Regions from separate parts of the Homo sapiens genome. Here region 1 is linked to region 2. The links come from fine-mapping of genetic effects on gene expression. Tissue or cell type: monocytes. Region 2 holds a variant in brackets; the other region holds the start of a gene. All regions are shown on one strand. Distances are from middle to middle.

The links. PIP is the estimated chance that this variant, and not a neighbour inherited with it, causes the effect.
Region 1: it holds the start of CUX1, and the variant in region 2 is fine-mapped to the expression of CUX1 in monocytes (Quach 2016, PIP 0.91).

Annotation. Positions count from the first base shown.
Region 1 is chr7:101,813,230-101,821,331 of GRCh38, forward strand. It overlaps CUX1 (cut like homeobox 1), which reads left to right and starts at 4,397. Exons shown (of 24, transcript NM_181552.4): 1 at 4,397-4,440. The coding sequence starts at 4,411. RefSeq lists silencers at 833-1,242, 2,162-2,551, 2,592-2,821, 3,407-3,566, 3,677-3,996 and 3 more and enhancers at 2,653-3,581, 7,857-8,102.
Region 2 is chr7:101,713,312-101,721,413 of GRCh38, forward strand. No RefSeq gene overlaps it. Among named protein-coding and RNA genes, the nearest start is that of MYL10, 88 kb to the left of the region's middle. The variant G/C (reference allele first, on the strand shown) is at 4,940.

The DNA of each region.
Region 1 (8,102 bases), 100 kb after region 2:
CAGTGGAAATCTAGGTCCTAAAACCTATAAAATATTTTGTAAATATTTTATGCAGCGCACATCTTTGTAGATCCACTCTGCCAGTGGGTACTCCTGGGTTTTTACAATGGTGGGGCTAAAAATCAATCTGAAACAATACAAAAGAAACAAAATAGTCTTTGGAAATAAATACAATTTGCTTTTATTCTGTGTCTATACTTGCTCAAGAAAAATAAAGTGCACTTTAAAAAGTTTTTTTTAGGTCTCTGCTGTTTCACTCAACGCAGATAACTTTTGATCAGTGGTTTATTTTGAATGAATTTCTTTTTACAAAGTAACGTTTTATGGTGCTGGTGAAAGTTATTCTAAACTCCTCCCTTCCCACCACCCCCTGCAGAGAGCAACAAGGTTTATGTAACCCAAAACTTTGGTGGGAGAACTCAACTGTATTTAAATAGAGGTTAACCTCTGGGCCATCCAATATAGTGTGTCTGTACTAAGTCAGGTTAGCATGTAAATAATATAAATATAACCAGAAATGTAACAACGGTATTTAATAGTCATCAGATTTATTTCTAAAATATTGCCATGGATTCAGAATACTGAATTCCAACCAGATGTATTTCGGGAGTATTACACAGGTCATATATATTTCACTTTTTTGGTTCAAACCCAGGGGATCTACACGATAATTAGATTGAGAACATCTGCATCAAATCCAAACCATTTCCCTGATCCTTCCTTGAGCCTTCCCCATGGGAGGGATTTCTTTTTTTTTTTAAGCCCCTGCACATTTTGTCTAGCCACCTTTAGCGCAATTCCTAGGTCTCGCCTGCCTGCCACCGCAGAAATAGACATGCCAGGGGAAGGCGGAAGCACCCCCCCCCCCACCCCCGCCGCCTCCCCGAGTGTGCAGGCATCCTTAGAAGTCGCATTTCCCCGGGACAGGAATGTCCCTCGGTGGCAATGCCGCTTCCCGCCAGAAGCCTGACTCCGGGACAGGGCGTGGCAGGCGCGGGGGCCTGGGCGCGCCGGTGGGCACGTGCGCGGGGACCCGAGGACCCGAGGACCCGAGTGTCGGGGCGCCGCTGCCCTCTACCGGGCGGCGCGGTCGGAGCTACAGCGCGGCGGCCGGCCGACTGAGCGCGCGGGCCGGGGCGCCCCACACGGAGGCAGCCCTTGGCCACCCGAGATCCACAGTGCCCTGCTGTGCGCGGCGTCACCGCATCTAGGGTGGAGGCTCGCAACGTGCCCCCCGACGCCAGCGCGCTCCCACCCACCGGCGAGTCAAGGTTGCGTTGGGGAGACAGTGAACCCCGTTCCCGACATCAGGGGCCTCCCCTTGGGGAAACTGAGGCCCCTGGCCAGCTGCGCAAGACCTGGGGACACGCGTGTTCTCTAAATCTTGGGACTTTCATTTCCAGCCTCTTCCTCCAAAAATGCCGAATTCACTGCGCCAACCCTCGAACTCACTTGAAAAGCAATTGTTTTCCACTTGCGCGTTTTATTTTGTATCCTATGCAGATTCTATTTACATATGCATTTTGAGATTAAGGAATTTGGGGACTTGTTTTAACTAATTACTCGTTCAGTGAAGTACGGGAGAGTCAAAGAACAGTATTCCTACTGGAAACTCCAAGTCACACGTGTGTATAATCAATGAAAGATGACGATCATAAAACGTGTGCTTTCGCCAGCTTTCCGCGAGGAGAGAAATCAAAAGAGAATTTATTTTTTGGTTTGCATTTTAGCATTTCTGTAAACTTGGGACCACGCTTTCCGTTTTCAGTGAGTGCACCCACACTTTCCAACTTTCTGCGCCCAAAGTTGCAACAAACCAAGGTGTCTGAACCACAGGAAGTTTCTTGGGCTGTTCCGCTGAAGCGGCGCGGGGGGACACAGAACTGGGCTCCCAGACTTTTCCTGTCGTGGCCTAAACTGGAACGGCTTGGGCGAATGGGGGCTGCCGGGACCCCCAGCGCTACCGCCGTTGGGGTGCGTTCGGGTGCGACGCTGGCACCGCCGCTGTCCGGGTGTGGGGCATCCACGCGCGCGGCCCCCTGAGAGGGTCAGGGCTGTTTCCCCCTCAACTCCACTCCTCCAAACATGCCACGCTGTTCCTGGTCGTGTCGGTGTCCCGGTCCTCGCTGGGCGCAGAGGGATCAGAGTGTTGCCGTCCACCGTCGGGGCGCCTCCCACGCACGCTGCTGCGGGGGGCCTGGGCCACGCAGGGGTCGGGTGTGGGGGGTCCCGGGCAGGTGGTAGCGGCGTCTCCGCGCTCTGTACACTAACCACTACAGGGGCGCTCCGACGTTCCCCCCAACCGGAGTCTTGAAGGCGCTGCGCTCGGCCACCGCGGGCGATCGCGATCCCAGCGGGAGACCCCCCCCACCCCCGCAGCCCTCCCCAGGTGCGCGGTGCCGGGGGACCCCGGGCGCTGCCCTCCAGCGCCCCCTCGGGGCCGGGTCTGTGGCCGGCGCGACCGCGGACTTTGGGGGGGGTTGTCCCGAGGGGCGGGGGTCGCCGGTCGGCCCGCGGAGGGGAGGGGGAGGGCGGCGGTGGGGGGGTTGGGGGAGCAGGGGCCGGGGCCGCGCGCGCGAGGCCGGGCCGCGGCCGCCGCGCCCTGGGGCTGCGACTCCGGCTCCGGCTCGGGCTCGCCATGGCTGCGGCGGTGCCGTGAGGAGGAGTCCGCGTCCTCGGTGGCGGCGGCGGCGGCCGGCTCCAGGCCGGGTTTTGGCGCCGCCCGCCTGCTGCCTCCTGGCGGCTCCTGAACTCCAGCCCCCTCTCTATCAGCCGCTCACTCCGTCTCAATATGTCTCAAGATGGCGGCCAATGTGGGATCGATGTTTCAATATTGGAAGCGCTTTGATTTACAGCAGCTGCAGGTCAGGCTCCTCCGCGCTCGGCCTCGCGCCCGGGGGTGGGGGCTGCGGGCGGTCGCGGCCTCCGCCGGGGGCCCCGGGCTGGCCCAGCCGCCGGGGGGCCCGCGGCGGCGGGGAGGAGGGGGGTGCCGGGCACCGCGGGGCCGAGTCGGGGCCGAGTCCCTCCCGCTCCCCGGCCCCCATTGATCACTCGCTTGATCGGAAATTGATCCTCTTTGTTCAATTCATCGATCAGCCCAAGATGGCGCCGGGAGCCGCCGCCGCCACCACTGCCCCCGGTGTCTGCCCCCACCCCGGGCGCCCCCCCGGGCCCCGCGCCGCCGCCGCCGCCAGCGCCGCCGCCGCCGTTGCCGCCGCGGGACCGGGGAGGGGGCGGCCCCGGCGGCCCGCGGGGTGCGCGCGCGAGCGGGGAGCGGGGAGCGGGCGGCGGGGGGCGGGCGGCGGCGGGCGCCGGGAGGGGGCCGCGGCCCGGCGGTGGCGCCCGCCCGCCCGCTCGCCCCGCGCCCCCGGCCCGCCGTATTCCCGGGGAAAGTTTGTGGGGAGTTGCTGCGGGGGGTGAAGCGCCTGCCTCTCCAGGAGGAGCCGCCGCCACTGCCGCCGGCGCGGCGGAGCTGGGGCTGGTGGCGCTGTGGTGCCGCCGGCTCGGGGGAGGGTCAGAGCGGCCACCGGCGGCGGCGGCGGCGGCGCGGCCCGGCTCCGGCCAGGCGGGCGGGTGGCCGGGCAGGCGCCCGCGCTCGCTACCCCCGGCCGGCCCCGGCCGCCGCCCCCGGCTGTCACCGGCCCGGGCCGCGCCGCCGCTCCGGCACCCCGCGTGTGGCTCCCGGCGCGGACCCCCGGGTTTGTTTACGTCCCGGGGAGCGCCCCGGGGCCACCCGCGCACCTCGCGGCCGCCGCGCTCTTTTGTGTGCCTGTGTCGGTGACGCGGACCTGTTCCTCCGTGGCGGACCCCCGCGGGGGCTCTTTGGGGAAACTTGGCGAGGGGCGGCGGGGGTGCCCCGCGCGCAGTGTCGCTGGGTCCCGGTGTCCCGGACCGCCGGGTGCGGGCGCGGGAGGAGGAGGCTGCAACTTTCCCCTAGGCAGGCCCCAAGCTGTTCCCCCGGGTGCCCGGGCAGTGTACGCTGCCTCCCCGCCGCCGGTCCGAGCCGCGATCGCCGCGCGCCTGGGGGCTCCGGCGGCCCCCGGTGACCTGCGGCGCCGGGTCCCTTCCTTGCGTCCCCTCGGGGCTTCTGCCCTCTCTGCAGGGCCCGCCATGGAGCGCGCGGCGGGTGCGCTCGGAGATGCCTTCTCGGGCCGGGTTCTCGAAAGCAGAGCCCCGGGGGCCCGTTGGGACCGTGGCATGCCGGGCGGTGGTCCGCGCGCGGAGTCCCCGGCGCCGCGGGGGGACCGTGCCGGGGCTCCCCGGCCCGCGCCCGAGTCGCCGCCGTGCCCAAGGGGCGAGTGCCTGCCTGCCACCCCCCGCCCGGAGGAGCGGCGCACCCTTAGGGTCCGCCCCGCACGTGCCAGCTCGGCGCCCGCGGCGCCGGGACAGCCCCGGGACTCTGCCAGGTGGATGTTGTGCGTAGCCGGAGCCAGGTTGAAGGTGAGCGGCGTGTGGGCCAGAAGTCCCGAGGTTGCAGGCGCGGAGGGAACCGGGGATGTCGGGGGGTGCCCGGGTCCCGCGGCTTAGAATGCTCTAGGGCGGCCTGGTGCTCTGGGAGGGGATAGGAGGGTTCCTCAGGGCCCCTGGGGAACTGCAGCTACTCCCAACTGCTAAGGTGTGCGTGAAGATAAACTTGGCTGAACTTTCCTAACCTGGAGGACTGGTGACAGTGACCTACCGCAATACCTTTGGGAGCAAAGCTCGAGATGCAGGCTTGTATCAAACGAAGCGGGTTGGATTAAAACATATTTAAATGGAATCTGACAACTTTAATTGTATATGCTTGTTTTCTGCTCTTGCCTACTAAGAACGATAAAGCCGAGTCATAGTCGTTATGAAATTTCCTGAAATTTCTCGCTTAACTAGGAAGAAGACTATGCGAAATATGTATTTCCGATAAGATTAAAACTTAAAGGAGTTTAAGTATTTATTGACTAAAATAGATTACTCCAAAGTGTCTATTGTGTAAATTAGATTCCTGGATGTAATGAACACAGCCGAATGGCATTTTTGATAAATTGGTCTACCCTGTTTTAGTAAAAATAGCTCCCTTTTACCATAATTTAATTCCTGTGCTTACTGTAAAACCCGTTGTGGAGTTTTAAGGACAAACATTATTATTATTTTTCTCTCTTGTCTTCCTAAATGTGACATCCTAGCTTAATATCAATGAAGTGTCTTTTTTAAAGCATCCTGGCAAAATTGCCTGGAAAATGGATTTGGTTTCTAGAGTTACTAGATTTTAAGAACTCTAAACCTTCCTGTCCCCCATATTAGCTACTTCTTCAGGGGATCAGGGCTCCAGGGTTCCATCGAAAGTTTCCATGTCAGTTTACTTGCACTTTATGTGGATATTAAGAAGAAATCAAAACCAAACCCCAAAACAAAGTCCCTTATTTGAACTTCATTCCTCTTTACTCCTTTGCTTTTGGTGGTTGCTAACGATTTGGCCTTAGATGATTTCCTATGGGTTTGCAAACTTTAGTCGAATACGGAATGTCAAAGTTCAAGTCTCAGGCCAATCTGGTTCTTTCTCTGGGCGGTGAGGAGGCCTTTGGAGTTGGTGTCTGGTTAATTCCCACCGATAGTCAGTGAGTCAATAGAACGAGTTTGGGAGAGAATTCATTAGTTCCAGATTTTTCTCATTTTTCCAGACCTCTTTATACTGAGATTGGGTTGCCACCTGGGGGTAAAGAGGCTGATCGGTCTTTGCAGAGAGAAATCCAGGTTGGAGACGTCAGCGGGTCCAGGTGAGGTTGGGCCGTTCCGCAGTTCTGCAACCCTGGCTCACTGGGTTCTTGTCCCTCGGCTTCCTGGGTCTTGAAGCTGCTGCCTTGGCACAGGAGTGTGTGCTCAGGAAGAGAATTTCTGAAGATTGTGTTTTATTCCGTTTCCTTTTTAGTCCCAAAGGCTTGTGGTATGGAAGTTTCAGTGCTTTGGTATTGCTAAGACTAGTTGGACAAGTTTTTTATCCTATCTCAGACTTGTAAAAACCAGGTTTTCTTTTCTTTTTAAATAAGAAAAGCACTGTTGTATAAATTTGTCTTTTAAATACATATTTGAAAGGAGGACACTTTCTAAGACAAAGCTCATGGCACTCTGTATGTTAGTGGAGCTTTGAACTCTTTGGGACGGGGCCCGCCAATGACTGCCTTCCCTTTGGGACATTATTCCCACATGGTGACCAGCCTTCCCCTTTAAGCAGCTTCTGCAAAAGTAAACTTGAAAAGTTGCCTTCTTTTTCAGAATCAAAAAACAATTTCAGTTTTGCTGAAAGTCCATTTTCTGATGGCTTTTTTTCCCCCTGTTGTGGAAGTGTGTATGTTACTGGCTGTCCAGTACTGTTTGCCATAATAAGTATATTATTTTAATTAAAATGTCCCATCTAGTACCCTTTATAAAAGAGCAGTTCAAGAAATTACACCACTGCTGCTCCTGCTTTTGTTTTCTTGGTTCTTTTAATATGGGTGTCTTTGAGGTTGGATGTGGGAAGGGGTCATTGGCAGTTGATTTAAGTTTTTTCCTATGTGAAACTCTTTTTTTCCTTAAAGGTGCAAGTGGTGAGTTAATGCAACAACTCCTGGTACAGTTGAGTCCACAGAGAGCCCTTTGACTACATCCTCGGCTTCGTGTATCTTCTGTCGGTAGTTAGCCAACCTAAGAAAGCTGAAAGGGCCAAATAGTCCAATACCTTCAGGAATGATTCTCTCCTAAATCCACTGAGCTAACCTTAAAAATGCAGTCTGGTGAACTGTGCTGAGCCTGAAACCTTTAATGGCTATTTAAAAAGTCTCCTGTTTTTGTACAATTAAGACAAACCCATCAGGGTTTATATGGGAGCTGTGAAGGAACAGTAGTTTGTGCTCTCTGATTCCCTTCTGGGTCTACCTGTAGCAGTAAACAATCAAAACCACTCCTGAGGCTGTACTCACTTTCTGTGTCTTAGGAGAGAACACAAGACTAGAAGTAGAAAATCCACATTTGTTTCAGCTCCTCTGTAATGCCCCAGGAACGTCTGTTTTTAGTGAAATGAAGGAAGGACACGTTTGTTAGGGGAAAACTCATACATTTCGTAAGCAGAGAAATTCATCATATGAAGAATCCTACAGAGGTAGGTTAAATTCCTACCCGTGCTTCCATTTCAAATAGTTTACACATTTGTCACATGTAAATTTCACAGACAGGTATATCTGACGAATTGTAACACAAATGGTATGTAAAAGGCAACTCTAACCATTATTCAAATATACAGGATCCAGGATCGTGAGTTATTGTAGAAATTACTTAAGACCTATTTAAAATTATTGAATACATAACTTTAAAAAATGTAATTGCTCTATGAAAAGTGACTTTTATTATAATTGTCAAAGACAGAAATTTGTCTGTCTTGTCCTTTTGTTTTGTCTGAAGCCCCGCGTTATCGCTGCAGAGAGAGAGTTTTGGTTTCCACCGAAATTTCCCTGCCTCCGATTGTTTAAACCAGACCCTTAATCTTATTTTAACATATTTAAAATGTTCACAAAACCCGGAAGAATTGTTTTGTGTAAGTAGCAAGCGAGTGTAGCTTAAACACTCAAGCAATTCTGGTATCTAATTGGAAACAGGTGGAATTCTTGGAATCCCATGTTTGAGTCTTTTTATAGCAAAGCCCAGGGACACTTTTCACTTATAGCCATTCGTTTTGTCGAAGCTATTTGAAGAGGGGCCCCACAGCCTCTCCTTATGTCCCACTGTTGCTTACCTGGACAAAGCAGTCGTGCTGGGCGCTTTAGGAACTGGATACCTGTGAATGCCTGGATGCCGAGAGAAGTGTGTGTGTGTGCCGATAATGGAGTGAAAAAGGAATCTAATGGTATAGTTAGACAAGCAATTTAATATCTGCATTGTTATATGACTTTAGAGCAAAGAATTTGTGAATTCATTTGTGATTTCTGACTTGATGAACCTTGACTGACCAGAGCATGTAGGTACATTTTATTATACCCCAATAATGATATAGAATTCAGAGAGAAGATACTCCCCCCCGCCCCCAAAAAAATTCTACATTTAGAGAATATAAGCTCCACCAGCAACCATAAAAGTATTAACTTGGTGAGGGGGAT
Region 2 (8,102 bases):
TGAGCCACCACACCCAGCCTCATATATATATATTTTTTTAATTATTATTTTTTAGAGACAGGGTCTCATGCTGTCATCCAGGCTGGAGTGCAGTGGTACAATCATAGCTCACTTTAGCCTCCAACTCCTGGGCTCAAGTGATCCCCCAACCTCGGCCTCCCAAAGTGCTGGGATTACAGGCACAAGCCACTACACCCGGCCTGATTTAGGATTTTTAAAGATTACTCTGGAAAGCAAAAAGGTTACTCTGGCTGCCAGAGGGAGGCTGATCCATGGGGGATGAGTTAGGAGGCTCTAAGATCTGTATAGGAGAGAGATGATGGTGGCCCAGACCAGAAAGGCGGTGACAGAGGAGGAGTTGAACACATTGAAACTGGCACCCCGTTGAGCTAAGGTTTGGGGTAAGCAGTGCCCTGGCCACCTAGCTCCTCAGCAGAGCAACTGCCCTTTCATTTATAATTATTATTATTATTGAGATGGAGTCTTGCTCTGTCACCCAGGCTGGAGTCCAGTGGTGCAATCTCAGCTCACTGCAACCTCCACCTCCTGGGTTCAAGCGATTCTCCTGCTAAAGCCTCCCAAGTAGCTGAGATTACAGGTGCCCACCACCACACCTGGCTAATTTTATACTTTCGGTAGAGACAGGGTTTCACCATGTTGGCCAGGCTGGTCCTGAACTCCTGGCCTCAAGTGATCTACCCACCTCTGCTTCCCACAGTGCTGGGATAACAGGCATGAGCCACTGTTCCTGGCCAGCAACTGCCCTTTCAAATCCAGCCAGTGCCTACTTGTTAACACCTATCGCATGCCAGTCCCCCAGCCCAGCATCATCATGGCCACAGGCTCCCCTCCTGCAGTCACCCATATGCCTGAACATGTCACATCCTACAGTCACCCTGTAAGCCACATGCTCCCGGAGTCCCTAATACTGATGGCAGAACTAAAGCTCAGAGAGGAGTAGACACTCAGCCAACATCACACAGCTTGTGGAACCCAGGACCGCCTGTCTCGCTGCCCCAGGCTGGTTCCCCAGTCAGGACCCACCACTTCCTCTGAGCCTGGAGGATGAGGGGAGGTGTTGGCAGAAAGCCACCCTAGTGCTCCGAGCAAACAAGAGCAGGATTGATCTCCAGAGCCAAGCTGAGCCCACGCAGCCGAAGATGGCAGCACTGTCATCTCCAGGGTGCCTGGGCCTCAGCCCAGAGACATAGTTCTACCTGCCCAGCCTGATCCCTGAATTCCTAGACATCCCAGCCCAGGAAAGCCAAGTTCCCAGGAAAGCAATTCTTACTAAGGTGTGAATGGCTGATAGCCAGTCCTTTCCTGAAAGGGAGTGACAGCATGGGGACACTGAGTTCCAGAAGCAAAAGAAAGGGGAAGGTACTAAAAATAAAATCTTTGGCCAGGTGTGGTGGCTCACGCCTGTAATCCCAGCACCTTGGGAGGCTGAGGCGGGCGGATCACTTGAGGTCAAGAGTTTGAGACCAGCCTGGCCAATATGGTGAAACCCCGTTTCTACTACAAATACAAAAATTAGCTAGGTGTGTTGGCAGGCGCCTGTAATCTCAGCTACTCAGGAGGCTGAGGTAGGAGAATCGTTTGAACCTGGGGGGCGGAGGCTGCAGTGAGCCAAGATCACGCCACTGCACTCCAGCCTAGGAGACAGAATGAGACTCCGTCTCAAAAAAAAAAAAAAAAAACTTAGCCCCTTTTCTATTTTACATCCTCTTCACAGCTGGAGCTCCTTGGGGCTCAGTTATTAGCTGCAAACTCCTCCACTTAACTCCTCAAATCAGCAACAGATGGAGGAACTCAACTTTCAGCCCAGCCCCACCTAATGCTGGAGTCCTGTCAACAGTGGACAATTGTCCCCTCCTGGCTTGAACACCTCCAATGACCAACCCTTATAATGTTCATTAAAAAACCTAGTGTTATTTAACAACATTGCTATTAGAAAGTCCCTTTGCATGTGTGAGCAACAAAGCAGTAGGTATAAAGCAAACACAGCTGGAACTATTGGTTTCCCTTTTACAGATGGGGAAACTGAGGCACCAGGAGGTGAAGGCATTGCCCGAGGTCACCCATGAAAGAATGGAGCTGGCCAGGCACAGTGGCTCATGCCTGTAATCCCAGCACTTTGGGATGCCGAGGCAGGCGGATCACAAGGTTAGGAGATCAAGACCATCCTGGCCAACATGGTGAAAATACAAAAAAAAAAAAAAAAAAAAACTAAAATACAAAAAAAATACAAAATTACTAAAAATACAAAACAAAAAATAGCTGGGTGTGGTGGTGCTTGCCTGTAATCCCAGCTACTTGGGAGGCTGAGGCACAAGAATCGCTTGAACCCAGGAGGTGGAGGTTGCAGTGGGCCGAGATTATGCCACTGCACTACAGCCTGGCGACACAGCAAGACTCCGTCTCAAAAAAAGAATGAAGCTGGGATGTAAACCAAGGCAGGGATCCTGGCTCCTGAAACCTCTCCAGTGAGTGATCTGAAGGCCCCGGACCCTGGCCTGCTGACTACATCATTAGCTACTCCCCAAGTAAAGTGTGGTCTCCCAAAGGCCACTTCCAATGCCCTGCCATGTGCCCCAGGAGGAAGCGGGGTCTTCCTGACCCAACTTTGAACATGCACTTGGAGCCGGGCGCGGTGGCTCACGCCTGTAATCCCAGCACTTTGGGAGGCCGAGGCGGGTGGATCACAAGGTCAGGAGATCGAGACCATCCTGGCTAACATGGTGAAACCCCGGCTCTACTAAAAATACAAAAAATTAGCTGGGCCTGGTGGCGGGCGCCTGTAGTCCCAGCTACTCGGGAGGCTGAGGCAGGAGAATGGCACGAACCCGGGAGGCGGAGCTTGCAGTGAGCCGAGATCGTGCCGCTTGCATTCCAGCCTGGGCGACAGAGCCAAACTCCATCTCAAAAAAAAAAAAAAACAAAAAAAAAAACGAACATGCACTTGGAGTCCCCAGTCAAGACAGCCTGGAAGAAATGAGGGCAACATGGGCGACTCAGTGGACCCCAAATGCATGCCACCATGGCTTCCCCTGATCCACACATCTTCTCTTGTCCCCTCCCTTCCACCCACTCACATGCTGGGCTTTCTCAGCATCCCTGGCAGGGACCTCTGTCTCGGATCACAAAGATGAATAAGAGAAGGAGGCTGTTGGCCTGGCACAGTGGCTCACAGCTGTAATCCCAACACTCTGGGAGGCTGAGGTGGGCAGATCACCTGAGGTCAGGGGTTCGAGACCAGCCTGGCCAACATGTGAAACCCCATCTCTACTAAAAATACAAAAATTAGCTAGGTGTGGTGGTGCACACCTGTAGTCCCAGCTACTCGGGAGCCTGAAGCAGGAGAATCTCTTGAACCCAGGAGGCATAGGCTGCGGTGAGGCAAGATCGCATGACTGCACTCCAACCTGGGCAACATAGCAAGACCTCATCTATATGTAAATAAAATATGCATAATAATAATTTTTTTTTTGAGATGGATTCTCACTCTGTTGCCCGGGCAAGAGTGTAGTGGCATGATTTTAGCTCACTGCAACCTCTGCCTCCCAGGTTCAAGTGATTCTTCTGCCTCAGCCTCCCGAGTAGCTGGGATCACAGGCATGCGCCACCATGCCTGGCTAACTTTTGTATTTTTAGTAGAGACGGGGCTTCACCATGTTGGCCAGGCTGGTCTCGAACTCCTGACCTCAGGTGATCTGCCCGCCTCAGCCTCCCAGAGTGCTGGGATTACAGGTGTGAGCCACCATGCCAGCCTAATAATAATTTTTAAAAGACAAGGCCGGCTGGGCGCAGTGGCTCATGCTTGTAATCCCAGCACTTTGGGAGGCTGAGGTGGGCAGATCACCTGAGGTCAGGAGTTTGAGACCCACCTGGCTACCATGAGGAAGCCCTGTCTCTACTAAAAATACAAAAAATTAACCGGGCGTGGTGGCACACGCCTGTAATCTCAGCTACTCAGGAGGCTGAGGCAGGAGAGTTGCTTGAATCCAGGAAGCAGAAGTTGCAGTGAGCTGAGATGGCGCCACTGCACTCCAGCCTGGGTAACAGAGCAAGACTCTGTCTCAAAAAAAAAAAAAAAAAAAAAAAAGACAAGGTCTCATCCTTTCCTGGTTGGGTCTTGAGAAATCACCTCTCTGAGCCACACAAGATTCCCTCCAAAAACAGTCCCACATCTAGAGGGCACAGAGCCGTCTCTGCCCTTGCACCCCTTCCACAGTGATTGTGGACTCTGGGATGAAGGGACAGCTGCACCCATGCCCCCTTCTGCCTGTTCTCACATCCTTCCAATCCTAGACCACCCCTCACCCTGTTCTCTTGGGAACCCCAGCTGCCCTCAGCCCCAGACCCCCCGAACCATACTCCCACTGGGACCTGGGCTGCCTTAATCCGAGCCCCCTCCCTCCCTGCAAAAGGCTGCGAACGCTTTTGAGGGCTGGAACATCTGGCTAATGGTGGGGAAAGTGCTGAGACGACAGGTTATTTCAACACTGTCATCATCTGTTGGGTATTTCAACACTCAGTGCTTGTGCAAGAGACTTAATGGGACCTGTCATAAACTCACGCTGTCTCAAAGCTCGGGCACGTCGCGGCGGGGCTGATGGGGAGTTGTCAGGGTTTAGCAATAGGCCCTGTCTTGGGGCCCGTAGCCTCCTTAAGGGTTATTTGTCTCCACTGTGGAAGGCTCAGAGAGAAATCTCAAGATGTCAGAGAAAATCCCGAGCAATTACCTCCCGGGGTAATTAGATGGTGGCACAGATAGCCTGTCTTCCTGCCTTCCCTCCTGCCCGGCAGAGGGAGGGAGAGAGGGGGACCAGCCGGTCCAGCCCCCTGCGCCAGCCCCGTGGGGGAAAGAGGCCGCAGATGACCTCATGGAAGCAACGGTGGTGAATCATGGCCCAGACCACATTCACATTTCCCCGGG[G/C]GTGGGCAAGCGTGTTGATCACCGGAGGGGCAGCTTCAACACCCAGAGAGATGGGGGGCAGGTCGGGGAGTAGGGGTGCTCCAGGATGTTTGATTCGGTTCAGCCCTGATCCAAGACTTTGTCTGAACTCAATCGCCTCTCTAAAAGGCTACACAGGGTGGAGGGCGGGGTAGCGCCTCCCGAAACCAGGAGGCGAGGTCCCCGGGAGGGAGGTCGCCGACCACACTTGTGAGGGCTGTGCAGAGTTCCCCACCACTGGCTCTCCCGGGGCAAGTAAGAGGCCCTGCCCCATGCCGGCAACACCGGAAATGAACTAAACTGGGCAGAGCAGAGACTCTAGGGCCTCAGACAGCCCCACTGCCCGGGAAGAGGGGCAATGGCTCAGCTACAGAGGCCTCTTGGTATGGGGATTCATAGGAGGGCCCTGGGGAGGCCTGAGGGATGAGTGATCAGACTCCCTCAAAGAAAACCAGAGCCCCAGCTGAGAACCAGCTCGGTGCCCATCCACCCTCCCCGTTCCACCCCAACACGCTTATCCCCAGAGTGTTCCGGAGAGGTGGTTCCAACTAGGGGTCTGGTGGGAGTTCATGAGGATGGGAGTTCATGAGGAAAGAGAGCACAGGATCCCCAGCCCTGGATGGGACAGGCGGGGAGGTGCCGGGAAGAACACCCAGGGAGAAGGAAGAACATGGAGAACGCGGAGAACGCATCGGGTACGCCAGCAGGACTGTGTGCCTGGAAACCAGAATGCAGGCCATTAAGACACGGACCGGGCAGGCCTGGGCAGGGCAGCCCACGAGTGCAGATCCCTTGGGGCACTGGGGAGCCACAGAAGGTCTTTGATCCCTGCAGTTACACATATACCAAGGGACTTTGAGCCCCTTCTCAGGATCGGTCTGGCAGCAGCTAGGGAAGAGTTCTAGGGGTGGGTAGGAGGAGGTGGGAGGTGCAAGAAGTCGGAGAATAACCTAAGTGAGGACAACCGCCAGGATGAGAAGGCGGAGGGGGCATGGGACTAAGGACGCTGGGAAGTAGACACCCCAGGACTGGGGCCCGAGCTGGGAGGAGCTGGACGAGGAGGGGCCCTTTCTCAGAACCAGTCTACAGAGGTGAGAGGGAGGACAGATGGGGAGGGGCTTGCTTGGACTTTGGGATCTTCCTAGAAATCGGCCACACAGGACCCAGATGGTCTCTGTGTCCCTCTGTCATGGGGACAACGATCCTCCGCTTCAATCGGACCCTTAGAGTCACTCAGACATTCTCCCAGGGCACACATCAACCAAGAATATGGTTTTTTGTTTTGGTTTGGTTTGGTTTTGTGGCTTGTTTGGGTTTTTTTTCCAGACAAAGTCTCACTCTGTCACCCAGGCTGGAGTGCAGTGGCAAAATCATAGCTCACTGCAGTCTCAAGCCCCTGGCCTCCAGTGATCCTCCCACCTCAGTCTCCCAAGTAGCCAGGACCACACAGGCGTGCGCCACCATAACTGGCTTTATTTATTTATTTTCAATTTTTTTTTTCTTGAGACAGAGGCTCGCTCTGTCACCCAGGCCGGAGTGCAGTGGCACAATCTTGGCTCACTGCAACCTTCACCTCCCGAGTTCAAGTGATTCTCCTGCCTTAGCCTCCCAAGTAGCTGGGATTACAGGCATGCGCCACCACACCCGGCTAATTTTTTTGTATTTTTTAGTAGAGATGGGGTTTCACCATGTTGGCCAGGCTGATCTCGAACTCCTGACCTCAGGTCAGGTGATCTACCCACCTCGGCCTTCCAAAGTGCTGGGATTACAGGCGTGAACCAACGCGCCCGGCCATTTTTTTCTTTCATTATTTGTAGAGACACTATGTTGCCCACATTGGTCTTGAACTTCTGGAATCAAGTGATTGTCCTGCCTCAGCCTCCCAAAGTGCTGGGATTACAGGTGTGAACCACCGCGCCCGGCCCAAGCCCCTGCCTTTATATGATCACATCACCACCTCCAAACAGAGGAGAAGCTGCCAGCCCTGCCATCTTCAGACAGACAAGGTTGGGGACGGAATGGTTTCCTCTGACTCGCAGCTGGGGCTCACCTGATGCTCTCTCCTGTCCTGTGTGGCAGGCACTGTGATCATCCCATTTTACAGATGAGAAGACTTGCTGCTCACAGGTGCAGAGCCCAAGGCAGCCATCCCTGTGATCTCTCTCCTGCCTGGGGCACCTCAAGTGTCAGGACCGGCCCTCCTTTACTTTCTGGGCAGGAAACCTCATTGGAGCTCCCCTGCGTGAGGTGGGAGGGATCCAGCCCCTGCCCCTCACCAACACTCCAGTGTGGCTTCCTGTCTGCCACCTGCCTCCCCTCCCATGCCAAAGACCAACGTTGCCTGGGTATAGGGGCCCATGGTGAAGCAACCATGAAATAGAAAGGGGCCCTGGGATGGGAGTCGGGAGACGGATGCTGTGGCAGCCCCAGCCCTGACCCTAACATATTCTGCCATCAGGAGGAAGTTATCTATCAATTCCAGGCTTCCAATTCCTGCCCTGCAGAAAGAGGCAGTGGCCTACAGTTTCTAGTCAAGAGATGACATTGTGGCGTGGTGGAGAAAGGCCCCCCAAGCACAGCCAGCCACCAGGTTGGGGTTTTAGTCCTGCCTCTGAAGTGGACAACCTCGCTTCCCCAGGCCTTGTCTTCTCTTTTTTTTTTTTTTTTTTTTTGAGACAATCTCGCTCTGTCACCCAGGCTGGAATGCAATGGTACAATCTCAGCTCACTGCAACCTCCGCCTCCTGAGTTCAAGTGATTCTGCTGCCTCAGCCTCCCGAGTAGCTGGGATTACAGGTGCGTGCCACCACGCCTGGCTAATTTTTGTATTTTTGGTAGAGACGGGGTTTCACCATGTTGGCCAGACTGGTCTTGAACTCCTGACCTCAGGTGATCCACCTGCCTCAGCCTCCCAAAGTGCTGGGATTACAGGCGTGAGCCACCGTGCCTGGCCTTCTCATCTTTAACTGGGGTACAATGGCATCTCTCTCAGACACAGCCCAGTGCAGGTGCCACGAGAGTGACGTATGATGTTCTCAGTGTGACAGGCAATGTCCCCATCCTGTTCTAGAACCTTCTGTGGTTCCTTGACAGACCGTCCCCAGCTGGAAGGCTGGACCACGAACTACTTGCTAAAAACAGGTCTG